7 linked regions of the Homo sapiens genome follow. The protein of the gene in region 6 interacts with the protein of the main gene of each other region in a pairwise test. Each region holds a gene or a part of one and is shown on either strand. Other genes may lie near its edges. The genes, in order: FAM167A, C1D, TIGAR, KLHL36, SYNCRIP, HIP1 and TRIM23.

The links.
Region 1: the proteins of HIP1 (region 6) and FAM167A interact in binary tests that used the Homo sapiens proteins (3 or more experiments, as listed by UniProt).
Region 2: the proteins of HIP1 (region 6) and C1D interact in binary tests that used the Homo sapiens proteins (3 or more experiments, as listed by UniProt).
Region 3: the proteins of HIP1 (region 6) and TIGAR interact in binary tests that used the Homo sapiens proteins (3 or more experiments, as listed by UniProt).
Region 4: the proteins of HIP1 (region 6) and KLHL36 interact in binary tests that used the Homo sapiens proteins (3 or more experiments, as listed by UniProt).
Region 5: the proteins of HIP1 (region 6) and SYNCRIP interact in binary tests that used the Homo sapiens proteins (3 or more experiments, as listed by UniProt).
Region 7: the proteins of HIP1 (region 6) and TRIM23 interact in binary tests that used the Homo sapiens proteins (3 or more experiments, as listed by UniProt).

Annotation. Positions count from the first base shown.
Region 1 is NC_000008.11:11,442,754-11,446,395, reverse strand, and holds part of FAM167A (protein FAM167A), read left to right. Parts: intron 1-380; exon of another isoform or gene 381-1,249; intron 1,250-1,587; 5' UTR 1,588-1,984; coding exon 1,985-2,365; intron 2,366-3,642.
Region 2 is NC_000002.12:68,052,339-68,056,885, forward strand, and holds part of C1D (nuclear nucleic acid-binding protein C1D), read right to left. Parts: intron 800-4,547; exon of another isoform or gene 723-799; intron 1-722. UniProt on the Homo sapiens protein: Plays a role in the recruitment of the RNA exosome complex to pre-rRNA to mediate the 3'-5' end processing of the 5.8S rRNA; this function may include MPHOSPH6.
Region 3 is NC_000012.12:4,330,861-4,335,407, forward strand, and holds part of TIGAR (fructose-2,6-bisphosphatase TIGAR), read left to right. Parts: intron 1-419; coding exon 420-457; intron 458-4,547.
Region 4 is NC_000016.10:84,655,011-84,659,557, forward strand, and holds part of KLHL36 (kelch-like protein 36), read left to right. Parts: intron 1-1,860; coding exon 1,861-2,934; intron 2,935-4,547.
Region 5 is NC_000006.12:85,632,491-85,637,037, reverse strand, and holds part of SYNCRIP (heterogeneous nuclear ribonucleoprotein Q), read left to right. Parts: coding exon 1-71; intron 72-4,547. UniProt on the Homo sapiens protein: Heterogenous nuclear ribonucleoprotein (hnRNP) implicated in mRNA processing mechanisms. Component of the CRD-mediated complex that promotes MYC mRNA stability.
Region 6 is NC_000007.14:75,553,572-75,558,118, reverse strand, and holds part of HIP1 (huntingtin-interacting protein 1), read left to right. Parts: intron 1-348; coding exon 349-465; intron 466-1,307; coding exon 1,308-1,409; intron 1,410-1,949; coding exon 1,950-2,093; intron 2,094-2,567; coding exon 2,568-2,703; intron 2,704-3,592; coding exon 3,593-3,679; intron 3,680-3,898; coding exon 3,899-4,006; intron 4,007-4,529; coding exon 4,530-4,547. UniProt on the Homo sapiens protein: Plays a role in clathrin-mediated endocytosis and trafficking. Involved in regulating AMPA receptor trafficking in the central nervous system in an NMDA-dependent manner. Regulates presynaptic nerve terminal activity.
Region 7 is NC_000005.10:65,606,755-65,611,301, reverse strand, and holds part of TRIM23 (E3 ubiquitin-protein ligase TRIM23), read left to right. Parts: intron 1-258; coding exon 259-441; intron 442-1,843; coding exon 1,844-2,059; intron 2,060-4,547.

The sequences.
Region 1 (3,642 bases), on a different chromosome or scaffold from region 6:
CGGGTTTCTCTGCTTACCAGTTGGGGTGGACTATTCCTTCTCATTCTCCATGGATGCCCCTTGCTAGGGCAGGCTCGTAGCCTAGGGCGGCAGAGGTCGGGCAGCAGGACGTCCTCCATTCACATCCCCACCACAGGCTGGGGCTGAGGAAAACGTCTGGACTGGAAAGTTCTGCTCTCCTTTCTTAAGCGTCTGCGTGCCATGTCGGAGAGGAATCCCAGGACACCGCGAGGTGGTCCTGCTGCCTGTTCAGCTTTTGCCACCCTCATCTTAATTCTTTTCCCTCCTATCCTCACCTCCCTTCTGCCCAGTTCCCCTCACTCCAAACAAGTAATCATGACTATGGCTATTCCCTTCCTTTTTTTTTTTTTTTTTTTTTGGCCGGGATGTTTTTAGGCATTTACAAGTCAGTAACAATCCCTCTTTCTTTCTCCTTTTTCACCCCAAGGGTGGCCTACTCTCCAGGCTGCTGAGAATCTTGCTTTTCTTCATTTAAGCTTTATCTCAAACATCATTCCATATCAATTCATTCTTTTTTATAGCTGCATGTCCCCCAGCACAGATTTTTTTTTTTAAAACACACCCTTAAAATCCAGGGCTTACCACCTGGGTCCAAATCAGATGTCTCCTACTCTGATTCACCCATGTCCACTGCCCACCCCATGGACCTCGGACCACAGAGTCTGGAGGCTGCGGTCTCTTCTTACTGGGAGTTAGATTTCTACCCTGTGTCTGATGTTATGGGGTAGGAGCTGGGGCTTATGCCTCCTCTCTGGAGATGGGGAGGCCACATCAGATCCCATAGCTGAAGTCTTTACCAAACAGGTGCTGCCATGCGGGCACTTAGGTGAACACGAGAAGCCTCGTTCTAGAACAATGAGTCACAGCCTGCTTGTTTAGCCATCCAGCCCAGGTGCCACCGCCTTCTTCCCTCCACAGCTGCAGGTTTATTTGCTTCTGTCTCTGAAGAGGTGAGGTAAGGTGTTGTTCTTGGAGGAAGAAGCTAGGAGCGTAGAGTAAGACCTGGATGTAGAAACGGCTGCTGGAGGACAGGACCTGTGGTGGGTGGAGGTGGTGAGGGGGCAGTGGCACCTGGACGGAGCAGACCCACCTTAGCCTGTGTGGGGTGCGGTTTCCCTGCTGGCTGGCTCTGGGGACCCCCCGGCTGTTGCCACAGAGAGGAAAGACCTGTGGCCTCAGATTCAGACAGCCTGAGCTTGTCCCCACAACTTATTGCTGGGAGATCTCGGTGAGTCATTTAACTTCTAGGATATGTGGGTTCCTCGTGTGTGAAATGAGAATAAAAACAAATCCCTGCAGACTTGCTGGGGGCATTAAATAAGATAGTAGAGGCGGAGTCGTTTTTATATAAATGGTAAAACACTGCACAATTTTTCAATTGCTCATTAACTTCTCTGCATTGAATTAAGGCATTAAAATGATCTCACTTCCGTCCCGGACTAGCCATGAGAAGCGCAGCCACCAGTCCACTCTGAGCCTCAGTTTCCCCTCCTGTGGAGTGGACGTGCCCGCCTCTGAGTGGCAGGGCAGGGATCGGGACTGATGCGGTTCTCATCCCTCCCACAGGGTCTCCAGCCACCTGCCCTTCCCGAGAAGAGAGAGCTCTGGGCCTTCTTCCTGCCAGTCTGGTCTTCGAGTGCGTTCAGGACAGATAGACCTTGGCACAGGCTGCCCCGAGATTCCTGCGACGCTGTCTGTTCCTGCCTTCTGTGGAGCATGGCACCCACAGGCTTCCAGGACGGATCATAGACCCGAGCCTCCAGGAGGGCGCCCTGTGCGGCTCACTGCGCGGTCCCTCTCAGCTCCCCTGCCACCCAGCCTCTGAGGCCGGCTCCTGTCCCGGAAATGCCCTCGGGCACCTGGATGAGGCCATCCCAGAGCGGGACCCAACTGTGCCACCCACCAAGCCTCCCCCTGCGCCCCCCGTGCCCTCGCATGTCCGGCTGCCAGGGCAGACTGTAGAATGTCTGTGCCCCAGATCCACGTGGAAGAAGTGGGTGCAGAAGAGGGGGCGGGAGCAGCCGCACCACCCGATGACCACCTCCGGAGCCTGAAGGCCCTCACCGAGAAACTGAGGCTGGAGACCCGCAGGCCCTCCTACCTGGAATGGCAGGCCAGGCTGGAGGAGCATACCTGGCCCTTCCCGAGGCCGGCTGCGGAGCCACAGGCGAGCTTGGAGGAGGGGGAGCGTGGGGGGCAGGAGCCCTTGCTCCCCCTGAGAGAGGCTGGGCAGCACCCCCCTTCTGCCAGGAGTGCCAGCCAAGGTGCCAGACCCCTGTCCACTGGCAAGCTGGAAGGCTTTCAGAGCATCGATGAAGCTATAGCCTGGCTCAGGAAGGAACTGGTGAGTGGCTGCCCCCAAGAATCCCCAGAAAAGAGGAGATGCCACCGTCTCTCTGTGTCTTTTTCTGTCTCTCTCTGTCTGTCTCCCCACCCCCACCATGTATTTCTTCCCCTCTCTCTAACCCCCAAGTGCACATCTGTAATCTTCCCGTGAGTTGAAGGCAGGCGTCATTTGTATGTGGCTGGGGGGACCCAGGTGTCATCAGCCCCTAATTGCAGACACTAATGAAGGAAGCAGGTGTTTTCTGGCAGAACCTGAACCCATGTTAAGGTGTACCCCCCTCCCCCCAACACCGCTCCCAGTACTGGAGTCTGGCTCCTGGGGTGTGACTGCCCCTCCCTCTGTGCTGGAACCTCCCCACCCTGCTGTCCACCCCAGCTGCCTGCCACTCCGGGGACCACTCTTCTGCACGTGAGCGGCCTCTTCTTGTGCTGGGCGCTGGCCGGGTGGCTCCATGGGGCACAGTGGCTGGGGTGTGGCTGTGCAGGGCGCTGCTGTGAGGAGCTGGCTCGGTGTGGAATGTGCTCGAGTGGTGAGGAGTTGTGGAGCTGCCCAGAGTCGGCGGGATGGGTCCTGCCTGGGGAGAAGCTCGGTGAGGAGGCTCAGAGGAGGAGTTGGCTCAGAAGTCAGGGCGGGGCCAGGTGTGAGGTAAAGGCACATTGTGTTTGAGCTGGGACCGCAGCGCGGTCACTTTCCTGCTCATAGGCAAAGCAGATTCCCAATAGGAGCATCTTTTGTGCATGGTGACTCAGCCTGAGAACAGGGTGGGGGGGCAGAGCTGGGTGCCCTGTCCCCTTCCACCCCCCCAGGGGAGAATCACCCGTGTCTGGCACGACAGCCTCTCAGCAGCACCAGGCATGAAGCTAACCCTACCCCAGCTCTCAACCCCTGCCCCACCCCGTCCCTGAGGCCCAGGTGACACCTGCGAGTCAGGCCACTCTGGCCACAGGTGAGCCAGCCATCAAGGGCAGCTGCCTTCCAGAGCCGGCAGTGGCTCTTGGGTCAGCTGGGTAGGCTGAGGCCTGCTTGGTTTGTTTTGCAGAATCCCGAAAACTAAATCCCCATGAGGCCTGGAATGCCTCAGGGGCTGAGAGAATCCACTGGGGTTTGGAGTGGGGCAGGGCTCAGGGACGCAGGGATCTGACTGATTAATTGGAAGCCTGTTTGCGTTTTAACACTTGATACCGAGAGTGCTTCTCAGAACACACCATTCTATTATATCCGTCTTTAGTAACGAGAGGGTGCATGTGCTGTCGGCTTCGGAGAAGATGAGGCAC
Region 2 (4,547 bases), on a different chromosome or scaffold from region 6:
TTCTTCATTGTTTACATTTCAAAAAGCACATATTAAATTTTTAATAAAAAACAAATAAAGGCACTTAATAAAGTATTTTGGCTCTTAACAAATACTGTATGTATTTTTAAAAAACAAAAAAAGGTCTTTATTTAAATGTGAATTTTTTCATCAAATTTTCCTACGAGAAAATATTTCCTTTCTTCAGAAGAACATAGTAGAGATTTTTCCTGCAATTATTCCCTGTCCCTAAGCCCCAATAAACAAGCAGTTATTTATTGTTAGAACAGGTTAGGGTGAACACTGAAAGCATGGTAGTAAGTAAGAATAACTGCCCTCATTAAATCTGAACTGAGCCACTTGCCTTTTCCCTAACTAAAAAAATAAAGACAAGGGGGACTAAAAAATAAAGGCTCTTCTATTATGAGAAATTCCTCCTAATTCAATTGATTTCTACTAACACTTTATTATAGGCAGCTGCTGAGTATTTATTCCTTCCACAGAAAAAGCGCAGAAATTTCCCTCTGTCCCCTTAGCTACTCTGACCCCAGGATCAAGCAGTGACTCTACGATATCAGCAGCAAACTCTTGAATAGCACTGATTATGTGCCAGGCACTACTCTAAGCATTCCACATGCACTTGTTCATCTAAACCTCACAGATGAATAAACTGAGCCAAAAGAAGTTAAAGAACATGCCTAAAGTTGTACATGTTAAAATTTCCAAAGAAGAAAAGAACTCACCCAGCTCTGCTCCTCACCCTCCTCCGGGGTTCTATAGGTACTCCTTGCCCTTCCACATACTCCTTCTAAAACACTGGCTGCAGAGGTAGAGACAGACGGAGAGGGCATGAGAAAACTTGCTTCTCTTCACCACTCAGTAAGGTGTGGCTGAGACTGAGTACCTGGGTTGCGGGGATGCTGCCCAGTAACCCTAACAGATGTTACTGCCACTCAGTCCTTCCTCTCACTGGTTATACAGAAGCCAAAGTACCGATAGGAGAAAACAAGAGTGCATAGCATCACATACAGAACTGAAGTCATCAGCTACCTCTTTCCTTTAATTCTCCACTTCAGGGTGGCCAATCCAGGCAGAAACCTGGGAGGCACCCCAAATCCAATCAGTCCTGTCAATATGGCTCCCTTAATCTCCTTACACCACAAGCTTTCCTCTATTCTCACTGACTAGATTATTTCAACAGCCTTTGAGTAGTGTCCCTATTATCAATTTTTCTCCACTCCCAGTTTTAGAATATTACAAAATATGCTTTAAACAGTCTGGTCATGGTACTCCTCTGTTTAAAATTCTGCAACAGTTCCCTCCCACATGGAAGACAGTTCCAAACCCCTCAGCGTAGATGCAAGGCCCATTATGATGTGGCCCTTGCTTGTCTGCCTAACCTCATCTTTCATGGCTCCCCTCTTCCAATCCTAGAGCTGTGGCCATGATGGCAGTTTTCCAAATGTGCCGTGCTCTCTCACTCTCAACTTTCACCTGTGTGATTCTCTAAGCCTGAAATGCCCTTCCAACTCCACTTTTTTCAAACGCTGCTTATCTTTGGAGGTAAAAAATAGGTTCCAGTTCGGCCAGTGAAGACTTCTCTGCATGCTCTCCTTCTATGCTCTCTGTCTGGACAAATACAACAACTATAAGCTGTCATGTCACTTAAAACACTATCTCTTAATGTATTTTTATTTACTTGACTTCTCCTTTGACTACATGCTCCTTGAGGGGCTGTGTCATATTCATGTTGTATCCCCAGTGGCTGACACACAAGGTGACTATAACTCTCAATTTGCCCAAGACAGTTCCACCTTACGCCTGTTGTTTCAGCTTGCCATCAACTCAGCTCCTTTCTTTCTCAGAAGTCCCAGTTTGAACAAAAAATTATATGGCTACCCTAAACAATGCAAGTTCTCTGACCCTTACTACCGCTTCCCATCCCATTTAGCTGGAGAACAGAAGCATCAGAGGAGTTACCCTTTGCACCAGTCAGGTTTCAACTAGAGAAGCAGAACCAGTAGGAGATATATATTAAGAGAGTTATGGCAAGAAACTGGTTTACATAGGGCAGGCTATGAAGGGAGGAACTCATGCTGGAACTCTTGGCTACTAGCTGAAACTGCTGTCTACAAGTGGAATTTCTTCTTTTTTGGAAGGAAAACCTCAGCTCTGCTTCTAAAGCCTTTCAACTGATTGAATCAGGCCCACCCAGATGATCTAGAATAATCTCCCTTACTTAATTGATTATGGATTTTAATCATAGCTTCAAAATACTTTCACAGCAACACCTACATTCATGTTTGACTAAATATCTGGGGGCTACAGCCAAACCAAGTTGAAACATTAAAAAGACAATCACAGCCAGGCACCATGGCTCACATCTGTAATTCCAACACTTTGGGAGACTGACAGGAGGATCACTTGAGCCCAGGAGTTCAAGATCAACCTGGGAAACACAGACAGACCCATCTCTAAAAAAAAAAAAAATATTTTTAATTAGCTGGGCGTGATGGCATACACCAGTAGTCCTAGCTACTCAGGAGGCTGAGGTGAGAGAATCACTTGAGTCTAGGAGTTCGAGGCTGCAGTAAGTTATGATTACACTACTGCACTCCAGCCTGGGCAACAGAGCAAGGCCCACATCCTTTCTTTTTTTTTTAAAAAAAAAAAAAAGACTATTGCACTAAGATGCATTCCTAGCATCAAAAATATTGTTGCTCTGACAATACTTTCCCACAACAAGCTTATTTTGATTATCAGGTTCCCAAGTAACAGAACTAGACTTCAAATTCTAGCTAACAAATGTAGAAGAAATGACAACTTAAAAAAGAATCACGACTTTGCAACGCCTAATGAAATTGTAGGTTTAGTCAATGACCACCAACAGATCACTAAAAGTAGGTGAAATGCACATATTATGAACCTCCTGATGTGAGGCAATATAACATACACAGCACCATCTGCAAAGCATTCCCAACTCCCAAAAAAGCTGAATCTGAACAATTAAGCCTACAGAGCTAACTTCCATTTTATAGGAAATCCAAAGGATAGAGGAACAAATTAACACCACAAGAAAGCAAACAAATATGGAGTGAGAAATACAGTACTCTACAGGATAACTGACCAGGTTTCCATAACAAGTCAACAGCATGAAGCAAAAAAAAAAAAGTGGGGGAAGAAAGACAGAGGAAGAAGAGATTTAAGAGATGTAACAACCAAATGAAATACACAGACCTTGTTTGGATCTTGATTCAAATAAACCAAGTGGAAAAAGATAGTTCTGTGAGAAAGAAATCTGAACATGGACAAAGTACTAGATGACACCAACAAATTATTGATAATTCTGTCATCTATGATAATAGCAATACAGTTATATAAGAAAATTTCCCTGTCTTTTGAGGATGCACACTGAAGTATAGAGGGGTAAAATTATGTAACATTTTGAATTTGCTTAAAAAAAAAGTAGCCTCCACAAATTATTACAACTTTGAGAGCAAAGATAAGAACCTATGTACATTATTTCTATAGTGAAATTAGATGGCTAACTCACAAACTAGCTTTTAGAATACAACTCCGTTCATATATAGGAGAATAACTAAAGAGAAGGTGTCGTCTAGAATATTTAAGCAGCTCCATTACATCTCATTTCAATTCCAAATATAACTGGAGTGAGGGAGAGGAAGGTTACTGGGTGCTCACTACATCTGTGATAGTTGCTGAACATATAGTCTCAAATGAAGTTTGTATTACTAACATTTCCAACAAAAGGCTCACATTCTAGAGTGTCTATTTATTTCAAGAGTATCACAAAAATCCTTTTGAGACAGAGTCTTGCTGTCTCGCCCAAGCTGGAGTGCAGTGGCTCAATCTCAGCTCAACGCAACCTCTGCCTCCCAAGTTCAAGCAATTCTCCTGCCTTTTACAGGTGCGTGCCACCATGCCCAGCTAATTTTTGTATTTTTTTAGGAGAGACGGGGTTTCACCATGTTGGCCAGGCTGTCTCGAAATCCTGACCTTGTGATCTGCCCACCTCAGCCTCCCAAAGTGCTGAGATTACAGGTGTGAGCCATCGAGCCCAGCAAATTCCCTTCTTTAAAAAAAAAATCCTAATTTCTTGTATTTTTACCTGGCCCTTAAAAATGCAGGCAAAATAAACAAATAAACAAACACCCAAGACTAATGTCAAATAAAAAACTAAAAAAAGACATATGCAACACAAAGATTTTTTTAAAGCCTCTATGAATCAATTTAACAATAACAAAAAAAGTACACACAACCCAAAAGAAAAATAAACAAGAAAATCAACAGTTCACAAATAATCCAGATGACCAATAAGCATAAAGAAAGCTACTCAGCCTTACTGATAATTAAGGAAACATAAATCGCTAAAATATGATGCCATTTTCATCTGTCAAATAGGGAAAAATTAAAAAGATTAATAGTACTAAAATGGACAAAGGTGAGCTGAGAACAGCCTCCCATTCACTATTAGTCAGGGTATAAATTAGTTTAGCATTTTTGTGAGGTAATCTGCACTATGCTTCAAAATCACATATGTACACATG
Region 3 (4,547 bases), on a different chromosome or scaffold from region 6:
CAGATTCTCTTTCACTTGCTCATTCAGTCCAGCAATGAATAGACTGACTCTCACGTTTTTGTTCCTGCTGCCAGTAAGAGTAGTTTTGATCAATATATTTCTTTTAACAAAATTATTTGGCTGAAATGTTATTTGCATTATATTTTTTAGTAGGATTTTCCACCTGCAATTCACTTAAGATTGGTTCCTGATCTACACGTTTTAGTTTGGAGTAGTTTGAAATTCTTAGCTCTTCATTAAAGAAGACAATTGCAAATATTAGTTTAGAATAAATTGTTTTTACAGGTTGGATTATGAAGTGTGTTACAAGTTTCACATGATATTTTTAGAGTATCACCACACTTGATTGCTCATTTTTTTCCTCCTCTCAAAAACAGTATAATTTGGCTAATAAGGTTGTCCTTCTCTTTCTATTTTAGTGGAGAAACAAGATTTAACAAGGAGAAAATAATCCAAGGTTGGTATAATCCGATTGTTATTTTAGCTCTCACCCTTGTGTTAATAAGATGTGTGAGTTAAGCAGATTTGGTGGGGTGGGGTAGACTGGGGGCAGCACTCCATTGTGAATTGGGATTACAGAATCAAAGCATCATAACCACAGAAATATGATCAGGGCTGTTAGTAACCAGGAGGAATAAATCTCTCAAGTGAACTGGGTGTGAAGTACAGGTCTCCAAGTTATTCTTTATGTATGGCTTCAAAGTGGCTCTGTCAGCTGATTAATTATATTGGGTCTGGGTGTCTTAAAATATAAATGTCTGGATTTGAAATTATTTTATATTTGGAAACATGAAGTTTACTGACTGGTGTTAATGGTATTTTTTTCTGCTAAGATGGTTATTTTAATTTTAGTAGTAATAAAGGTTTAAAAAAAGAACTATTTTCACATGTGGTCGTTACTTTATTCTGAAGAGATTCTTTCTCCCTTTTTCTGTTAATTTGGACTCAGATCTTTTATTTGCCCTGTGATCCAGCTAGTCTGGCTTTTTAAGAATATCTTGAACTTTTGGCTAGACATGCTATTTCTGTGCTGTGATTATAAAAGCATTTAGTTTTATTTTTTTGGTTAGGGACTTCCGGGGTTTACAAAAACTGATTTTCATATTCCGTGTGCCTGACTCCCTTTTATGGACAATAACTGGTCTGATTCTCAAAGGAACCTTTGTTTTCAGACGAAATATGCCCCACCCAGGTTATCCTCTGGACTGAAGCCTCTTACCACCTGGCCTTTGGTATTGCTCATTTCTCTTTTTCCTAAGACATTGACAATGGAACGTCAAGAAAGTTTTTGTGTTCTTTTCCTGACCTTGTCAGTTGGATGCTTTAGTTCTTTAAGTTACAGCCTTTTGTGTATAAGCATTCAAGGCTCATGTATTTCTTTTTTTTTTTTTTTTTTTTTTGAGTCAGGGTCTCACTGTGCCGCCCAACCTGGAGTGCAGTGGTGCGAACTCGGCTCACTGCAACCTCCGCCTCCCAGGTTCAAGCGATTTCTCATGTCTCAGCCTCCTGAGTAGCTGGGATTACAGGCACGTGCCCCCATGCCCAGCTAATTTTTGTATTTTTGGTAGAGGTGGTGTTTTGCCATGTTGGCCAGGCTGGTCTTGAACTCCTGACCTCAGTTGATATGCCTGCCTTAGCATCCCAAAGTGCTGGAATTACAGGCCTGAGCCGCCGCACGCGGCCTCAAGGCTTATATATTCCTAAGTACTGTTTTTGTTTGCATGCCCGTAGTTTTGACACGTGGTAATGTGGTAAGCATTCAGCACCAAGTATTTTCAATTCCCATTGAGTGACTTCCATTATAAATGCTTTTGTGTTCTGTCAGTATGGTTTATTTGATGATACTTCTTTGAAATGTGTTAATTATGGTCAGTTTTTATAATTCTTCCATTGTATGCTTCAGAAAAATGTATAATCCGTCATTGTTGGGACTGGAATTATATATAAAATAATCAGCCTTCTTGATTTTGTTTTTCAAATCTTACACACTTTATTAGCTTTATAAATGCACTAGTTTGCCTGCATGTCCTAAATATCAATTTATGAGTGCAGTATTTTTAATTTCCTGCTGCAGTGGCCAGTTTGCCCTTTAATACTTGGAATTCTATCCATTTTTGGTTTCTATGTTCTGCTTTTGTATCGACTGAGGTTACTTTATTAGGCTTATACAAGTTTAAATGATTACATCTTCTGAGTAAATTGGATCACTGATTTTCTTATAGTGGTCCCCAAATCCTTAGTGAGACTTTTGTCATAAAGTCTTATTTTTCTGACAGTAATATAGCTACTTGAGCTGTTTTGGGGATGGAATTTCACTGGTATGTATTTTTCCATCTCATTCCTTTCACTCTTTGTGTATACTCATGTTTAAGTGTTATCTCATAAATAGTATGTAGCTAAATTTTGGCTCTTTTGAAAATATATATAAGTTGTCTTTTTTTTTTTTTGAGACAGAGTCTTGCTCTGTCACCCAGGGTGGAGTGCAATGGCGCGATCTCAGCTCACTGCAACCTCTGCCTCCCGGGTTCAAGCAATTCTCCTGCCCGAGACTCCCGAGTAGCTGGGATTACAGGTTCCCGGCACCACACCTGGCTCATTTTTTAAATTTTTATTTATTTATTTATTTTGAGACGGAGTCTCACTCTGTTGCCCAGGCTGGAGTGCAATGGCGTGATCTCGGCTCCTGCAACCTCCACCTCCCGGGTTCAAGCGATTCTCCTGTCTCAGCCTCCTGAGTAGCTGGGATTACAGGTGCACACTACCAGGCTCGGCTAGTTTTTGTATTTTTAGTAGAGACGGGGTTTTACCACATTGGTCAGGCTGGTCTCGAACTAACCTGGTGATCCACCCACCTCGGCCTCCCAAAGTGCTGGGATTGCAGGCGTTAGCCACCGCGCCTGGCCTAATTTTTGTATTTTTAGTAGAGACGGGGTTTCACCATGTTGGCCAGGCAGGTCTCAAACTCCTGACCTCAGGTGACCCATCTGCCTTGGCCTCCCAAAGTGTTGGGATTACAGGCGTGAGCCACCACGCTTGGCCTAGAATCTGTCTTTTAACTGGCAGTAGTGACTGTTTGCCTTTATTCTGGTCACTGATGTGTTTCGATTTTTTTTCTTTGTTTTTTTTTTCCCCTTCTTTTTATAGTCTTTCTTTTTTTAATCTTACCTGCTTTTACTTCTTAAGTTCTTGGTTTTTTTCCTGTTCCACACTTTCTTACTTTCCCCACTACCTTTCAAATGATGTACCATTTCCATTCTTTTCAAGGTTATCTTAAAATTCTTACCCTCATACCTGTCTTAGCCAAGGCTGCTGTAACAGAGTATCATGGACCCAGTGGCTTAAACAATACACAGTTCTAGAGACTGTGAATTCCAAGATCAGGGTGCCAGCAGATCCAGTGTCTGTGGAGGACCTGATTCCTGGTTTGCGGACTGCTGTCTTCTGGTTAATATCCTCACATGGCAGAGAGATAGATTGAGAACACTTATAAGGACACTAATCCTGTTCATGAGGGCTCCACCCTAGGATCTAATCACCTCCCAAAGGCCTGCCTCCTAATACGATCACATTGAGGGTTAGGATGTCAACATTTGAATTTTGGGGGGACACATTTACTCTGACAATACCTAATAAAGTATAATATTAATATCCCCTCTTCCAAAAAATACAAAGAACTTGTCTAGTCGCTTAGTCCTGTCTTTTTTTAATTGCTTGAGGTAGACATTATTATCTTCATTTGTTTAGATGGCATTTAAATTTATGAATATATTTGCAAGTTTCTCTGCTCCTCATTTGTTTTCGTCTCAGACCATTCCTGAAGTACGTTCTTTGAAAAGTCCTCTAGTGTGTGTAGAGCAGCTGGTGGTAAACATAGTGGCTTCAGTCGGTACACACTTGTAACTGATGATTCTCTCAGCACTTGGAAGATAGCATTCTGCAGTTTTGGTTCCATTTTTCCTGTTAAGAGATTTCTATCAGCTAAATGGTGTTCCATGGTAGGAAATATGTCTTTCTCTGTAACTTCCTTTAAACTCTTCAATTTTGATATTCTTTAGTTTCTCATAATATATCTAGGAGGAATTTTTTTTTTAATGTATCCTGCTTGATGTACATGTGTTTTCTTATTCTGTGAAATTCTTAGCTATTTTCTTTTCATATTCCTCTCCTTCATTTTTTCTGTTCTTTTATTTTTTTGAGACGGAGTTTCACTCTTGTTGCCCAGGCTGGAGTGCAGTGGTGTGATCTTGACTCACTGCAACCTCCGCCTCCTGGGCTCAAGTGATTCTCCTGCCTCAGCCTTCCAAGTAGCTGGGATTACAGGCGTGCTCCACCATGCCCAGCTAATTTTGTATTTTTAGTAGAGACAGGATTTCGCCATGTTGGCCAGTCTGACTTTGAACTCCTGACCTCGAGTGATCCACCCCCTTCAGCCTCCCAAAGTGCTGGGATTGCAGGCGTGAGCCACCATGCCCGGCCATTTTTTTTTTTTTATTCCTTTAGAGTTCCAATTAGATGCATGTTATAGACTGAATGTTTTTCTTCCCAAA
Region 4 (4,547 bases), on a different chromosome or scaffold from region 6:
AAGCCCGGTGTAGGCCAGCCTGGCTCTCTTTGTGGGTAACCAGGATAAATAGAGATCTCCACGTGTGTGACCTGTGAACTGAAAAGCCAGCCTGGAATGGAAGAGCGGGAGAGCCCGTCCTCTGAACTCAGAAGGAAATGCCAAGTCGGATCTGTCTGGCATCCTCCACAGGCTGTGAGAATGTGGCCTGCTCCTGTAGCATGGACAGAGAAGTTGCTGTTGGAATTGACTGGATGTGGAAATACCACAGGGAAATAAAGTGTCTCAATGACAAACGCATGTATGGCAACAAAAAGAAGATTTGAAAGGGAAGAAAAAAATAAAACCCACTGCTGTAGGACACATGTTAAGAAGCAACTTTTAAGAATTCAGAGCCTGGGCAGTTTAGGGAGACGTTGTCCCTGCAAATTATAAAAATCAGACAGGCGTGGTAGCGTGTGCCTGTAGTCCCAGTTACTCAGGAGGCTAAGGCGGAAGAATCACTTGAGCCCAGGAGGTCAAGGGCGACATAGTGAGACCTCGTCTCTACAAAAAAATTTTAAAATTAGCCAGGCATGGTGGCACACACCCGTAGTCCCAGCTACTCAGGAGGCTGAGGTGGGAGAATCACTTGAGCCCAGGAGGTCAAGGGTGCAGTGAGCCGAGATTGTGCCACTGCACTCCAGCCTGGGCAACAGAGTGAGACCCTGTCTCAAAAAAAAAAAAAAAAAAGTCGAACCACATAGCTGCTAATACCTAATAGCCCTCGGTCAGTTTTCTTCCTCCAACCACATTTCCCCTCTTCAGGCTAGTGCCCAGCCAGTTCTTCACCTCAGTCACCCTGGAATAGACCAGCTATCTATGTGATAGTTTTCAGTTACCTGTTTCTCCCTATGTTGAATTCATTTATTTATTTATTTAGAGACAGGGTTTCTTTTTGTCGTCCAGGCTGGAGTGCAGTGGCACAATCATGGCTCACTGCAGCCTCAAGCTCCTGGGCTTGAGCGATCCTCCTGCCTCAGCCTCCTGAGCAGCTGGGACTACAGGCGAATGCCACCACGCCCACCTAATTTTTAAATATTTTGTTAAGACAGGAATCTCGCTATGTTGCCCAGGTTGGTCTCGAACTTCCTGGCCTCAAGTGATTCTCCCGTCTCAGTCTCACAAAGCATTGAGATTACAGGCATGAGCCACCATGCCTGGCTTGAATTGTTGTGTTGTTTGGTTTTGGGTTTTTTTGGTTTGTTTTTTGTTTTTTCTTGTTTGTTTTGTTTTGTTTGTTTGTTTTTTGTTTTTTGAGACGGAGTTCTTGCTCTGTCTCCCAGGCTGGAGTGTAGTGGTGTGCTCTTGGCTCACTGCAACCTCCATCTCCTGGGTTCAAGCAATTCTCCTGCCTCAGCCTCCTGAGTAGCTAGGATTACAGGCACACGCCACCATGCCTGGCTAAATTTTGTATTTTTAGTAGAGACAGGGTTTCACCATGTTGGCCAGGCTGCTCTCAAACTCCAGTAGCCGGGCTGTCGTCCCAGCTACTCAGGAGGCTGAGGCAGGAGAATCACTTGAACCCGGGAGGCAGAGGTTGCAGTGAGCTGAGGTTGTGCCACTGCACTCCAGCCTGGGCGACAGAGCAAGGCTCTGTGTCAAAAAAAAAAAAAGAAAGAAAGAAAGAAAGAAGTTATATTAATAAGAGAAGGAAAAAAAAAACCACGATACACAGGCATACTCAGAAACACCTGTACTTCCTGCAGTGCCCTCTGATGCAGCATTTTATTTCCTGTTTTCTTCAGTTTCATTTTGTTGAAAATGCTGGTCAGGACCCACTGGGTTGGACCAGGGCCGAGCAGGCTGCTGCGCCGTTTCTAATGTGTCTTCTCTGTCCAGGTATACCGCTGGGCCGACCACTCAAGCACGGTGCTGCAGCGGCTGAACGAGCAGCGTCTCCGCGGGCTCTTCTGCGACGTCGTCCTGGTGGCCGATGAGCAGCGTGTGCCAGCCCATCGCAACCTGCTGGCCGTGTGCAGCGACTACTTCAACTCCATGTTCACCATCGGCATGCGGGAAGCTTTCCAGAAGGAGGTGGAGCTGATCGGCGCCTCCTACATTGGGCTCAAGGCCGTGGTGGACTTCCTGTACGGCGGGGAGCTGGTGCTGGATGGCGGCAACATTGACTACGTCCTGGAGACGGCTCACCTGCTGCAGATCTGGACGGTGGTAGACTTCTGCTGTGAGTACCTGGAGCAGGAGGTGAGCGAGGACAACTACCTGTACCTGCAGGAGCTGGCCTCCATCTACAGCCTCAAGCGGCTTGATGCCTTCATCGATGGCTTCATCCTGAACCACTTCGGCACGCTGTCCTTTACGCCCGACTTCCTGCAGAACGTCTCCATGCAGAAGCTGTGTGTCTACCTGAGCAGCAGCGAGGTGCAGCGGGAGTGTGAGCACGACCTCCTGCAGGCCGCCCTGCAGTGGCTGACGCAGCAGCCCGAGCGCGAGGCCCACGCCCGCCAGGTGCTGGAGAACATCCACTTCCCGCTCATCCCCAAGAACGACCTGCTGCACCGCGTCAAGCCGGCCGTGTGCTCGCTGCTGCCCAAGGAGGCCAACTGCGAGGGCTTCATCGAGGAGGCCGTGCGCTACCACAACAACCTGGCGGCCCAGCCCGTCATGCAGACCAAGCGCACGGCGCTGCGCACCAACCAGGAGCGCCTGCTGTTTGTGGGCGGCGAGGTCTCCGAGCGGTGTCTGGAGCTCAGTGACGACACCTGCTACCTGGACGCCAAGAGCGAGCAGTGGGTCAAAGAGACGCCGCTGCCCGCCCGGCGGAGCCACCACTGTGTCGCGGTGCTGGGGGGCTTCATCTTCATCGCCGGCGGCAGCTTCTCACGGGACAACGGAGGGGATGCGGCCTCCAATCTTCTTTATAGGTATGACCCCCGCTGTAAACAGTGGATCAAGGTGAGATTAAAGCCAGATTATTTCTTTTCTCTTGAGGACTCTCTCGGTTTCCTTAACCTAGCCTTGACTTTCCTTACCTCTCTGGGGCCTTGACAACTATCCTGCTTCTGAATGAGGTGTGATGATAAAGTGACGAGCAGAATACCCCGGGGCCTACATCCTGGACAGGGAGAGGGAGAGCCGACCCACCCCTTCGAGGGGTCCGTCATCGTTCAGAGCAGCACTGCCTGGCGGGGCTTTCTGTGCAGATGGAAGGGTCTGTCTGTACTTCCCGATACGGTAGCCACAGCCGCATGTGGCGACTGAGCACTTGAAATGTGGCCAGTGCGACTGAAGAAGTCAATTTTCAATTTTATTTCACTTTAACCGATTGACGTGTAAGTGTATGTGGCCGCACGAGGCGTGGCTACCCTATTGGACAGTAGCATGGGTCTAGATGTTTGATCCATGGTTCAACATCCCCAGGTCCTGGAGTCTCTGTGGGGCTCCTCTGGAAGCATTTTGGGAGATAGTTTAAGGAGACCACTAGTGCTCACGCCTGGCCCTTGGGCATGTATTGTGTCCTGATTCTGGGAAGAGCGTGGGCCTTGATGTCAGACCTGAGGTCTCATCCCAGCCTGGCTAAGTCATAGCTAGGAAATTTCAGATTCTTGTCCTCTCCACATTTTGGATTCCCCTTCTGGGAATACGTGGGGGACAGGGAGTGCAGTAGCTCATGTTGACTGGCAAGCCCCTGGCGTAGGGAAGGTGTCTCCTTTCTGCTGGGAGCGCTCTCCAGCCACTCGGTCCCCGGGACAGTCCATCTCAGCCTCTATACTCACACCTCAGCGTCGCGCCCAGCTCAGTGCTGTTCTCAGCTCAAAACCCAGTCAGAATGGACTCCAGCTGACCTTTTGATTTTACTCTCAGAAATCTGAGACTGCCCTCCAAGGTCGAAGTGTCACCACTGGAAAGGGTCCCTGGCTTTGGAGCCTCCTCCCGAAGCCTGGCAGCAGTGGCAGCAGTGTGTTTGCCTTGGATTCGTTTAAAAAAAGAAAAAAAAAAGTTGGCTCTTCTACTTTTTGTGTGTGTGTGTGTGAGACAGAGTTGTTCTGTCACCCAAGCTGGAGTGCAGTGGCACGATCTCGGCTAATTGCAACCTCTGCCTCCCAGGTTCAAACAATTCTGGCGCCTCAACCTACTGAGTAGCTGGAATTACAGGCGCCTGCCACCACGCCCGGCTAATTTTTGTATTTTCAGTAGAGACGGGGTTTCACCATGTTGGCCAGGCTGGTCTCGAACTCCGTGACCTCAGGTAATCCACCCACCTTGGCTTCCCAAAGTGCCAGGATTACAGGCGTGAGCCACCGCGCCCAGCCTCTTCTGTTTAATTTCCTGTCGAATGCCACGTCCTGCTCTGTTAACACGGAGTGGCAGAGCAGCACTAACTTTACAAATCTGATGTGGGGAGAGGAAAGATGAATTTTTATTTCATAAAGCCACTAGATCAGCAATTCTGACCCCTGTGACCACAGAGTTCCCATCCACGCGGCTAACGACATGACCAGAGAAGTTCGGGGGTTCAGAGCATCTCCATCCCCCTTTTGGGGACTCAGAGCGTCTCCATCCCACTT
Region 5 (4,547 bases), on a different chromosome or scaffold from region 6:
CTGGTCTCAATAGAGGTTATGCGTTTGTCACTTTTTGTACAAAAGAAGCAGCTCAGGAGGCTGTTAAACTGGTAAGTTGTCCTTTTTTCCCCTTCAGTTTTCACGTTCACTGTCTTTAATATCAAGTTTTTTTCTTAGTGTGCCTAAGAGTTTACCAAACATTTTTTGAAGTACTGATTTAGGCAGGTTTTTTTTTTCCCACATCACTGTGCAAGCATTGTAGTGTTATTCTTTGCATGTATAGTTGATAGGATTCAGCATCTAAAAGGCGGCATGGTAGAATTCCTAGCAATTGGTTCTTATAAACATCTGGCTTAGTGACGTTTTTGTGTGTTTGTTTAAATTTATAGGAATGTGAAAAGATTAAGAAAAGTAACTGTGGTAAGAGCTCTCATACTTCCTGGCCATACCTGAGCCATCTCTTTTTCTTAAATAATTCACAAAAGACATTGTGATACATTTCTAGTTGATGAAACAAAAGATTTTATGGTGAGTGGCAATGTTTGATTTAAAAATACCAGATGTTAGGTAAGGACCTGGTAATCTTTCCAACTTTTTTAAAAAGGAAATTTTTCTTTTTTCTTTTCTTTTTTTTTTGAGACCAAGTTTCTCTCTCTTGCCCAGGCTGAAGTGGCATGATTTCGGCTCACTGCAACCTCCACCCCTCAGGTTCAAGTGATTCTCCTGCCTCAGCCTCCCGAGTAGCTAGGATTATAGGCGCCTGCCACCACGCTCAGGCTAATTTTTATATTTTTAGTAGAGATGGGGTTTCGCCATGTTGGCCAGGCTGGTCTCGAACTCCTGACCTCCGGTGATCCACTCGCTTCGGCCTCCCAAAGTCCTGGGATTTTAGACGTGAGCCACCACGCCTGGCTAGAAAGAAATTTTAATATTTTAAATTATAGTTTATGTAAGTCCTTTAAACTAGTTTTATTAAGTTCTGTGACAGAAGTGGTTTCTGCATTTTATAGTTGAAGAGTTGGGGGCTAATTTAAACCCATAGAATGTATCAAGCAACACGACTGGGGAGAACTTTTGTACAAGATAGCTCACTATGCCATGTTTGTTAAATTTGCTTTATCTGGCTTACGTATCCTGTGGGTAATTCCAGACAAACTTAAAATCTTCAGACTCATTTTTTTTTCCCTCCCTCCTGAGTTTTACCCCTTCCTTTACCATGAGGTTTATCACTTTAAGCAAGCCTTAAAGAGAAAAATAAAACTCATAAGTCTTCCTTTTCTTTTTTTTTTTTTTTTTTTTTTTGGGAGATAGAATCTCACTCTGTCACCTAGACAGCAGGAGTGCCATGGTGCGATCTTGGCTCACTGCAACCTCCGCCTCCCAGGTTCAAGCGATTCTCCTGCCTCAGCCTCTCCGGTAGCTGGGATTACAGGCATTTATCACCACACCTGGCTAAATTTTGTATTTTTAGTAGAGACAGGGTTTCACCATGTTGGCCAGGCTGGTCATGAACTCTTGACCTCAGAAGATATGCCTGCCTCAGCCCCGCAAAGTGCTGGGATTGCAGACGTGTGCCACTGCACCCGGCCAAGTCTTCCTTTTCTATGTTGTGTGAATATTCCCCACTGGTTTGCATAATTGAGTATGATGGAAGTTAAACAGTACAAAATTATGTTACTTGAAAGAATATAAGCCTTTACAAAGAGAATTTGAGAATTTAGATATTTTCAAATCATGTCTGATTTTTCTCTTCATAAAAGAGTGCTTTGTGTTTTAGAGGGAATTCAGATTTACTGGTAACCTTTGAGTTGTCAAAATTTTAGTTTCAGCAGTTCAATTTGAGGGGAGGGGCATTTTAGAGCTCTAGAAAGAGGTACCTTAGAAATCCTTTAGTTTGTTTTTATGATTTGTTTTTTGAGACAAAGTCTCTGTCACCCACGCTGGAGTGTGTGGGCATGATCTTGGCTCACTGTAATCTCTGCCTCCTGGGCTCAGGCAATTCTCCTGCCTCAGCCACCCGAGTAGCTGGGATAATAGGCGCGTACCACCACACCTGACTAATTTTTGTATATTTGGTAGAGATGGGGTTATGTTGGCCAGGCCGGTCTTGAACTCCAGACCTCAAGTAATCTGCCCGCCTTGGCCTCCCAAAGTGCTGGGATGACAGGCATGAGCCACTGTGCCTGGCAGGTTGGTCTTGAACTCATGGTCTCAAGCAGTCCTCCTACCTCGGCTTCCCAAAGTGCAAGGATTACTGGCATGAGCCACCTTGCCTGTCCCAAAATCCTTTAATCTCCTATAAAAGAGTAGAATATTTTTGCCAAGTAGCAATAAAGTAGCAGTAAGTGAAAATGCAGAATGATCCAGTAAGCAATGAGGTATCATAACTACAGAAAGCTAATACAGTGGGCTCTCTCTACTGTGGGTCCTGCATTCACAGTTTCAGCTAGCTGAGGATTGAAGATACTCCCAAAAAACCCAATAAAAAAAAAAAACAACACACCAGTGTATGAGAGAATGTTCGTAGGTTATGTGCAAACACTATGCTATTTAAGAGAGTTGAGCATTCATGGATTTTGGTATGGGTTCCTGGAATCAGTCCCCCGTATGTGCTGAGGGACCACTGCAGAATTTAGCTAGTGGTGTCATCCATTTTTTAACATTATGAAAAAGAATCATTAAACTGACATCGTAGGTTACCTAATTCTTGCCGTCAAAATGTACCAATTATGGTAGGTGACCACTATAACTTATTTATAGATGTTTTCCAGAAACTTTACAGTAAAGATACATCATTAGAGGAAGATGGTTTATAATCCATTAGTAACAGTGATTTCGAGTGCCAGTAGACACTAGGAAATGTTTCCATTTGTACAATTGCCTTGTTTAATAAATACGTTAAATTATAAAATTGCATTGCTGTAGGTTGCTTAGAATATAGTCTTATTAATATAGTTTTTAAATATAATGGAGAAACTTCTATAGATAAGCATTCTTTTTGATTGGCGTAGGAATTAACCCTTGTCCTAAAACTTTCTACATTTCTTTCTGGGTTTCTCTGTTGTGATTTGAATCCTTTTCTGGGGGCATAATTATTTTGTACTATCTAATTAATAGGAGACTTTGCATTTTGTTGTCTTTTAAAAGATACTTTTGGCAGGGTGTGGTTGCTCACACCTGTAGTCCCAGCACTTTGGTAGGCTGAGGTGCAAGGATTGATTGAAACCAGCCTGGGAAACATAGACCCCATCTGTACCAAAAAGTAACAGATTAGCCAGGCAGCGTGCACCTGTGGTCCCAGGAGGTCAAGGCTGCAATGACCTGTGATCATGCCACTGCACTCCAGCCTGGGCAACAGAGACCCTGTCTCAAAAAACCAAAAAGGGGGAAAAAAAAAATTTCCAATGGTAGGTATTGGTATACAGCCAGTAGGATATATTGGTCATACCATCATTTGCTTTTTTTGACTTTTTAGTAAGTTTTTTTGAAACGGAGTCTCCCTCTGTTGCCCAGGCTGGGGTGCAGTGGTGTGATCTCAACTCACTGCAACCTCTGCCTTCTGGGTTCAAGTGATTCTTCTGTTTCAGCCCCCTGAGTAGCTGGGATTACAGGTGCACACCACCATGCCCTACTGATTTTTGTATTTTTAGTAGAGATGGGGTTTCACCCTGTTGGCCAGGCTGGTCTCAAACTCCTGACCCCAGTCTCGGCCTCGGCTTCCCAAAGTGCTGGGAGTACAGGTGTGAGCCACCACACCCAGCCTACTTTTAAGTAAATTGTTTATTTTATTTATTTATTTATTTATTTATTTATTTGTTTTTGAGATGGAGTCTCACTCTGTTGCCCAGGCTGGAGTGCAGTGGTGCAATCTCGGCTCACTGCAAGCTCTGCCTCCCGGGTTCACGCCATTCTCCTGCCTCAGCCTCCTGAGTAGCTGGTACTACAGGCACCCACCACCACACCCAGCTAATTTTTTTTGTATTTTTTTAGTAGAGACAGGGTTTCACCGTGTTAGCCAGGATGGTCTCGATCTCTTGACCTTGTGATTCACCCGCCTTGGCTTCCCAAAGTGCTGGGATTACAGGTGTGAGCCACCGCGCCCGGCCTTAAGTAAACGGTTTTAATTATTATTACTGTTTTCGGAGACAGGTTGTCACTCTGTTGCCCTTGCTGGAGTGCAGTGTCATGATCAATGCTCACTAACCTTGAACTCCCGGGCTTACGTGATCCTCCTGCCTCAGCTTCCTCAGCAGCTAGGACTATGAGGGCACCACCTTGCTAGGCTAATTTTTAAACTTGTAGAGGTGGTGTCTCACTATGTTGTCCAGGCTAGTCTTGAACTCTTGGCCTCAAGCAGTCTTACTGCCTTGGCTTCCCAAATTGCTGGGATTACAGGCATGAGCCACTGCGCCTGGCCATTGTTTACTTTTTTTTTAAAAGGATGCTTTACTGTGGGTAGGATCTGGTAGATTTGCTTTAGCACAACAAAGAACTAGATTTTAGAGAAAGTGAAGTAATTGAAACATTCTAGAGAAAATACAAATCTCAAGTTTTTTTGGATGTTTTTTGCCACTTTGTATTCATTT
Region 6 (4,547 bases):
GGAGAGAGCGGCTCAGGCCTGTGGCTTCCCCGGGGCCAGCAACCCCTACATTGATCTCTAAGGCATTGCCGTCATCTCGGGAACCACACCTTTTCAGGCTTCCTTGCCTCTGTGTCTTGGGCTGTGTCCTGGGTGCCAATCCCATGTAGGTCACCCACCTTCTTTATTATTTTGTAAATATTTGAGCATCAAGCATCTGAAGGTGATGGCTCTGTTCCGGCTGTGGGTAGGAAAGTGATTCCTGTGTCTGACTCTAGGGCACGCACAGCCTGAGTATGATTGTCCTAGAAGGAGGATGTCCTCTAAGCCTGGGATCTCCTGGTTCAAGACACTGTTCTTCTTTTGCAGAATGCAGAGGTGACCAAACAGGTGTCCATGGCCAGACAAGCCCAGGTAGATTTGGAACGAGAGAAAAAAGAGCTGGAGGATTCGTTGGAGCGCATCAGTGACCAGGGCCAGCGGAAGGTGAGTGGGACGAGGAGCACTCGGGAAATGAGGGAGGGGGCTGTTGAGTTGGTGGCGGGGGCTTTGTGGCCTTCTGCTCCATGGGCAGTTCTGTGGGTCGGTTGGCATCACACAGCAGGGAGCACACCATGGTGGCCACACAGAACAGCAAAACACCGTCACCAGTGCATACACGAAGTAATGGAAGGACCCAAGTTGCCTGGGGTTAATCAACAAAGGCTTTCCAAGGATGAGGCTGGTGGAGAGTTTGAGGAAAGGAAAACACATGGGTGGCAGAGAGAGAGGGATGAGCGTTTTTTTTTGTTTGTTTGTTTTGTTTGTTTGTTTTTTGAGACGGCAGTAATCCCAGGACTTTGGGAGGCTGAGGGGGGTGTGGATCACCAAGTCAGGAGTTCGAGACCAGCCTGGCCAATATGGTGAAACCCCATCTCTACTAAAAATACAAAAGTTAGCCAGGTGTGATGGCGTGTGCCCGTAGTCCCAGCTGCTTGGGAGGCTGAGGCACAAGAATCTCTTGAACCTTGGAGGTGGAGGTTGCAGTGAGCTGAGACTGCACCACTGCACTCCAGCCTGGGCAACAACAGCGAGACTCCGTCTCAAAAATAAATAAATAAATAAATAAATAAATAAATAATAAAAAATCCTTCCTTGACATTCCACATTTTCAGTACACTCTGGGGTCTTGCCTCCTCCTCCCACACCCTGCACTTTTTTGGGGGGGTGTAACTTACATACAGTAGAGTTTACAGATCTCTTGTTGATCGCTTGGGACGTTTTTACATTTTTATATTCTTTGTCACTGTCACCCAGATCAGAGTCCCTCTGTTTTTCTTCTCTTTCAGACTCAAGAACAGCTGGAAGTTCTAGAGAGCTTGAAGCAGGAACTTGCCACAAGCCAACGGGAGCTTCAGGTTCTGCAAGGCAGCCTGGAAACTTCTGCCCAGGTAAATACCTCCTTTTTTTTTTTGGAGATAGAGTCTTCTTCTGTCACTCAGGTTGGAATGCAGTGGTGCGATCGCAGCTCACTGCAGCCTCCACCTCCCTGGGCTCAGGTGATCCTCCCCACTTAGCCCCCCGAGTAACTGGGACTACAGGCACACACCCCTACACCTGGCTAGTTTTTGTATTTTCTTTGGTAGAGACGGGGTTTCACTATGTTGCCCAGGCTGGTCTCGAACTCCAGGGCTCAAGTGATCCTCCCACCTCAGCCTCCTAAAGTGCTGGGATTACAGACATGAGCCTTCATGCCCGGCCTCCTTTCTTGCCCCACCCCTGGCTTTGGCGTTGCTGTCATCCACCATCCTTGGCCTGGCCAAGTCAGCCCCCACTGCAATCAGTGTGTCCCCGGGAGGGAATCAGAGTGGCAGGTTAAAGAGCCATCACCTTCCCAGTCCTTGCAACCCGGTGGTGGGTTGGACCTCTGGGAAGTAGGGACTGTTTAACTCAACCAGCGTCTCCCTCTTTCCTTGTGGTCACCTTTGCAGTCAGAAGCAAACTGGGCAGCCGAGTTCGCCGAGCTAGAGAAGGAGCGGGACAGCCTGGTGAGTGGCGCAGCTCATAGGGAGGAGGAATTATCTGCTCTTCGGAAAGAACTGCAGGACACTCAGCTCAAACTGGCCAGCACAGAGGCAAGTCACGGACATGGACACGAGCGAGCACCTGTGAATTCCCACCGAGGGCCTCTGCGCATGCACGGAGGCTGGGAGGACCCCGGGGCTGCTGAGAAGGGGTTTGGGGCCTTGGCCTGATTGTGCAGACATTCTGTAGGTGTAATGCCAGCAGGCCCTGCATTGCCTGCAGAGTCCATGAGGGAAAGCAAACTGCTGTCTTTTTTGTATGAGAAGAGAAGTTTGGCATCTCCTCCCAGCCATGAGAAGCGGGCGCAGTGATCCATCCCCACAGCCTCTGTGGGCAGCCGCACATCGTGGGCAGCCGCACATCCTGTGCACACAGTTAAAGCGCCTTTCTCTGTCTCAGGCTTACTGGCTTGGACCTCATTGGCCATGACTTGAGCTAAGATGCTAAGAGCCCCAGCCAGGTCATCCTGCTCAGGTTCATTATGGAGTCTAGGGCAGACTCTCACCTCCCTGGACCATTTTTAGGAATCTATGTGCCAGCTTGCCAAAGACCAACGAAAAATGCTTCTGGTGGGGTCCAGGAAGGCTGCGGAGCAGGTGATACAAGACGCCCTGAACCAGCTTGAAGAACCTCCTCTCATCAGCTGCGCTGGGTCTGCAGGTACACTTGCAATTGCCCAGCTGGCAGGGGCCAGGTCCTTACAGCCTGAGACTCTGTTGATGTTGAATCTCATGTGAGACTTAGCTCAGGGGCTCTCAGCCCAGCAGCATGTCAGCATTACCTTAGGGGCGCCCAGGCCCCATCCTAGATCAGTTACATGTGGAAACTCTGTGCATTAGTGCCTATACACTAGTATTTTAGTATTTTCTTCCCCCCCCCCGCCCCCCCGCTTTTTGAGATAGGGTCTTACTCTGTTGCTCAGGCTAGAGTGCAGTGCCGTGGCTCACTGCAACCTCCGCTTCCTGGGCTCACACAATCCTCCCCACTCATTCTCCCAAGTAGCTGGGACTACAGGCACGCAACACCACGCCCAGCTAATTTTTGGTTTCGGTTTGTTGCTCAGACTGGTCTTGAAGACCTGGGCTCAGGCTATCCACCCACCTTGGCCTCCCAAAGTGCTGGGATTACAGGCATGAGCCACCATGCCTGGCCTTGGCTAATTTTTTAATTTTTGGTAGAGACGAGGTCTCACTCTATTGCCCAGGATGGTCCCAAACTTCTGAACTCCCACCTTGGCCTCTCAAAGTGCTGGAATTACAGGCATGAGACACCACGCCAGGCCCAGCAGTAGTATTTTCTAAAGCCCCCAGGTGTGATAGCTACTGCTTTAGACAGTGGGTCACACTGATAAAACACCCACCAGGAGCAGACAATTCTGTTTCTCTAAGGAAAAAACTATGGTCTGAATCAAGAGGTGATTACTCATGAACTTCACGTCTAGGCAGGAAGCTTACCCACTAGGTAAGCTCCTCCATTCAGTGCTTAATTAACGAGGATGAAGCCAGCTATGAGAACTTGCTCTGACCTTGCCCTGTGTTCCCTCTCACAGATCACCTCCTCTCCACGGTCACATCCATTTCCAGCTGCATCGAGCAACTGGAGAAAAGCTGGAGCCAGTATCTGGCCTGCCCAGAAGGTAAGAATGGCCAAGGACAGTCTCTGTCGGCTAGTGATGGCCAGACAGGGTTCAGAAGCACCTGAATGCGGGGATAGTGACAGGTCCCTCTGCATCAAGAAAGGCATGTAGGCAACTCATACAAGAAAGGCATGTAGGCAACTCATAAAACGGGAGGAGAGGGTATGAAAGTGTCACCATCAACCAGACCTGAGAAACTTCTCTTTCCAATCCTGGCAGACATCAGTGGACTTCTCCATTCCATAACCCTGCTGGCCCACTTGACCAGCGACGCCATTGCTCATGGTGCCACCACCTGCCTCAGAGCCCCACCTGAGCCTGCCGACTGTGAGTACCGGGGCATGAGGGGCTGTTCATGGACCAGGGGAGCAGGGGGCCTTTAAAAGTCTCTGTTGGGCCGGGCGCAGTGGCTCATGCCTGTAACTCCAGCACTTTGGGAGGCTGAGGCGGGCAGATCACTTGAGGTCGGGAGTTCAAGAACAGCCTGGCCAACATGGCAAAACCCCATCTCTACTAAAGATACAAAAACGATGGGCCAGATGCAATGGTTCACGCCTGTAATCGCCGTAACACTTTGGGAGGACGAGGTGGGCAGATCACCTGAGGTCAGGAGTTCGAGACCAGCCTGGCCAACATGGCGAAACCCCGTCTCTACTAAAAATACAAAAATTAGCCGGGCATGGTGGCGCACCCGTAATCCCAGCTACTTGGGAGGCCGAGGCAGGAGAATCGCTTGAACTCAGGAGGCGGAGTTTGCAGTGAGCCGAGATGGCGCCACTGCACTCCAGCCTGGGCAACAAGAGCGAGACTCCATCTCAAAAAAAAAGTGTCTATTGCCTTGTATCTCCAGCACTGACCGAGGCCTGTA
Region 7 (4,547 bases), on a different chromosome or scaffold from region 6:
CTGTTAGCTCTTACTTAGGATATGATTTTAGAGATAGTCTCTTGGTTTTTTGTTTAGCAATAAACGGACTTCCAAATTTTAAATTACTTCTTTGCAGTACAGTTTTCTTATAAAGGAGTGAAAGTAAATTAGTATTTTTCTGTGTCATAAAAGTCACTTGTGGCTGATGCTTTTTTGTATTAATAGGGATTTAAATAGTTTTTTATATTATTAGTCAATACTATGAGTTCTTTTCTCTAATTATGGTACATTTTATAGCATTCAGTATTGGAACCAGAAGCTAATCAGATCCGAGCATCAATTTTAGATATGGCTCACTGCATACGGACCTTCACAGAGGAAATCTCAGATTATTCCAGAAAATTAGTTGGAATTGTGCAGCACATTGAAGGAGGAGAACAAATCGTGGAAGATGGAATTGGAATGGCTCACACAGAACATGTATGGATTTTTTTTCTTCTTCACTTTCTCATTCTTTTTTATTTTTCATATTTTCACCTTCTACTAAGTAATTAATGGGCAATTACAATTTGCCAGTATTGCACCAATCATTAGAAAGTTTTTTAAAAGTCCCTGTCTTTCAGGAACTCATTCATCATGGAAAAGAGAGAGTTTGAAATATGGTAACTATTTTATGGAGGAGAAGTACAGGGTGCTTTGGCATCACAAAACAGGGACAATGATTTATGGAGGTCAGAGAAGTCCTTATAGAAGAAATGGTGTTTAAACTGAGATTTGAAGAATTTCAGTCAGGGAAAAGAGCAGAACGGGGAATGAGTTGTCCCAAGAAGGGAACAATATGTTAAAATGTTTGTAAGTGAGGATTGTACATATTGTAGAGACTTAAAGAAGCTCACTGTAGTTAGAGCTTTAAGTATTGAATGGGACATGACAAGAAAAGAGGATATGGAGAGTTCAAAGCCAAATCATGCAGGATCTTGTCAGCCATGTTAAAGAGTTCAGAACTTAGTTTAAGGACAGTGATGAGCCATTGAAGAATTGACTTAGGAATGATATAATCAGATTTTCCTCAAGAAAGGTTGTTTTAAATGTAGAAAATGAATTGGAGGAGCAACAAAATTGGAAGCAGGCAGACCTATTAGGATGTTGTTAAAGTTTTCTAGTTAAAATACTAGAGATGTTTATGGCCTATAATACACTAGGGTAGTGAGAGTGGACACAAGTCAATGGATTTGAGATTTTAAATAAGTAGAATAGATAGGTCTTAGTGATTAATTGTTAATATTGATTGGATAGGTAACTTAGAGGTGATGAGGCATGATCAGATTTTGGGTGTATTTTGAAGTCAGCAGAATTTGCTGAGGGACTAGTGGGCTATGAAAGAGAGCTGATAATGATGACTCCGGTTGTTTTTGCTTCAACATCCTGAAGGATGGAGTTGCCATTTACCAAGACAGAGGCAATTAGGTTTGGGAATAGGGGAGACTGGAGATTAGGCATTCCATTTTGCTTGAGATGTCATTTATAAACAGTTGAATTTCCAATGTCTGTGCATTAGGGGAAAGATCTAGCATGGAGATTTATATTTTGGAATTTAATATAGATGGTATTTAAACAATGTCTCGCTCGGTCACCCAGGCTGGCATGCAGTGTTGTGATCACCACTCACTGCAGCCTTGACTTCTGGGGCTCAATCAATCCTCCCGCCTCAGCCTCCTGAGTAGCTGGGACTACAGGCACATGCCACCACGGCTGGCTAATTTTTTCCATTTTTTGTAGAGACAGAGTTTTGCCATGTTGCCTAGGCTGAAATTTTAAATATTTCACAGGTAAAATCTTTATTAACATTACAGTTGCTTAAAATTTATTTTCATTTTCTTAGGTACCAGGGACTGCAGAGAATGCCCGGTCATGTATTCGAGCTTATTTTTATGATCTACATGAAACTCTGTGTCGTCAAGAAGAAATGGCTCTAAGTGTTGTTGATGCTCATGTTCGTGAAAAATTGATTTGGCTCAGGCAGCAACAAGAAGATATGACTATTTTGTTGTCAGAGGTTTCTGCAGCCTGCCTCCACTGTGAAAAGACTTTGCAGCAGGTAGGTAGTTTAAATGTGGTTAGGGACTTAGTTGTAAGTTTAAGTAGATAATTACCAGAGGTATACATTAGTGTGTTTTATTAATATTTTGTGTCTGCTGTATGCAGTAACTTTGTGCTTAGGAAATGGTCTGCAACCTTGAATTATTTCACTAGTATGGAATTATCAGTGTCGTTCACGTGCCTTTCCCACCATAAGCCATGGGTTCTTGAGGCCTTCTAACTTCTTGCCATTCTTCAGTTATGCCAAATCCTTTTACTCTTCTTTGCCAAGCATATATGTAGTTTTTTTTTTTTTTCTGCTTGGAGTGCATATATCTCTCTTTTCTAATAGTGGAAATCTTCCTTCTCCTTCAAGGTCCAGCTTAAATATTTGCCTTTCTTTGAAGCTTTCTATTTGTTGGTCTTTTTTTGAGTGCCTCTCTACCATGTACTGCCTACGTCTGCTATAATTCAGTGGTTCTTCACTGTTAGAGCAAACGTATGTTTTGTGATGGTTGAGATACCATAAGAAATTTGTTACCCAGTTTGCAGATGACTTACTTTTTTAAATAAATGAGATTCAGTTATTCTAACACAAATGTCAGCTTTACCCATTTGTGTTTTGGATCTGTTTTCATAAGTGTGAGGTATAAGAATAACTATTGCCCTAGGAATTTCAGAAAAGCTGCAGTCTGTGTTATCTTCACTGATATATTGCTAATAATTGTGTTGATTTCAAATCATTGTAGGCTAAGCCTTGTACCATTGTAGAGCTTTTTCTCTTAAATATGTGATTACACTTACATGAGAGTGGCCAGTCTATAGCCTCATCAGTCTTGGGTTATCATTTAGTCCTTACCACACTGAATTGTAACAGTTGATATGTATGCTATTTATTAAGTTGATTTTCAGCTCCAAACCTACTCTTCTATCCTCTATTTTGTGATACTAGGGCTAGAACTCTACAGACCTCATAATTGTGTTGCCAGCTGGGCCCATGTTAGGTACTGTCAAGAGGGGGCATAGTTACTCATGTGAGGAGACCACCCTTCTCGGAGGTTTGAGTTTCAGCTCCATGAGCCACTCCTGCAAGTTTCTAAGTTTTAATAATTCTAACTTCTTCCTTTTATTCCTTTAGCACTGGAAGTGGTAGCTATGTTATTTCATACAATTGCTACCTCCTTAATACCTCAGAGTTCCTTTTAACCTTTTAGCTACCTAGTTAATAACTACACCTAGTTAACAGTTTTTATTTTAAGTTCTTTCTATTCAAGTAATGGTGTGATTTGTGTCTTCCGATTTGACCTTGAATGACACAATATGCCTATGTGTTTTAGATGCTGACCTTGTTCATCTTTGATGCATCTTGTTCATCTTTGTGTCACTAAATTCTTTGCATCTAGATAGAAAGAGCTTAATAAATACATGTTTAACTCATGGCGGATAATGAAGCTACATAGCAAAATCAGAGTGGAGTCATGTCCTAAATCATATTTACTTGAACACTTAAAAGTATTTTCATATTTATTTTATGAAAAAGTTTGTTCATAGTTACTGAAATATTTAAGTATTTTAGAGTTTCTGAAGTGTTGTGCCAAAATGACTGGTATATTAGTCCATTTTCACACTGCTTTACAGATACTACCTGAGACTGGGTAATTTATAAAGGAAAGGGGCTTAATTTACAGGTTTGCATGGCTGGGGAGGCTTCAGGAAAGTTAGACAATCATGGGGGAAGGCGAAGGGGAAGCAAGCACCTTGTTTACAGGACGGCAGGAGAGAAAGAGAGAGCAAAGGAGAGGTGCCACACTTTAAAACCATCAGATGTCATGATTAATCACTATCATGAGAACAGCATGAGGGAAACTGCCCCAATAATCCAATCATGTCCCTCCCTTGACATGTGGGGATTACAATTCGAGATGAGATTTGGGTGAGGACACGGAGCCAAACCATATCAACTGGTAATTTTTAATGATACAGTATTATCTATGTTAATGCAAAAAAATCAAGGTCTTGGATTCATTTTTCATATGGACCTATTAGTTTTGTTCTATTTTATAACTACAGAATACTAACCAATGTTCTTTAAAGTTCCCACTACAGAGAAAATTGAACAGAGGAATGGATGGAACATCACAAATTGATCTTCACTTCTGAGAACATAATTTAATCATCCATCCACTCTAAACAAATTATGCATCATCTAAAGTTCTTGGCATGATACTGGATGCTGAATATTTATTCATTTAGCAAATATGTATTGAGTAGCTAACATATGCCATGTATTTAAAATATATCAGTGAACACAATAAGCAAAAAGCCATAATCTTGTGAAATTAGCATTCTAGCAAGAAGACAGGCAATAAACCATAACCATATCTAAGTAAGTTAATTATACTATATGTTAGAAAGTTCTGAGAGCTAATCAAAAAAGAATTCTGCAACTACATGTTTATGTTTGTACAGCAGATTGCATTAATAAGTAGAGTAGTCAGGGTAAGCAT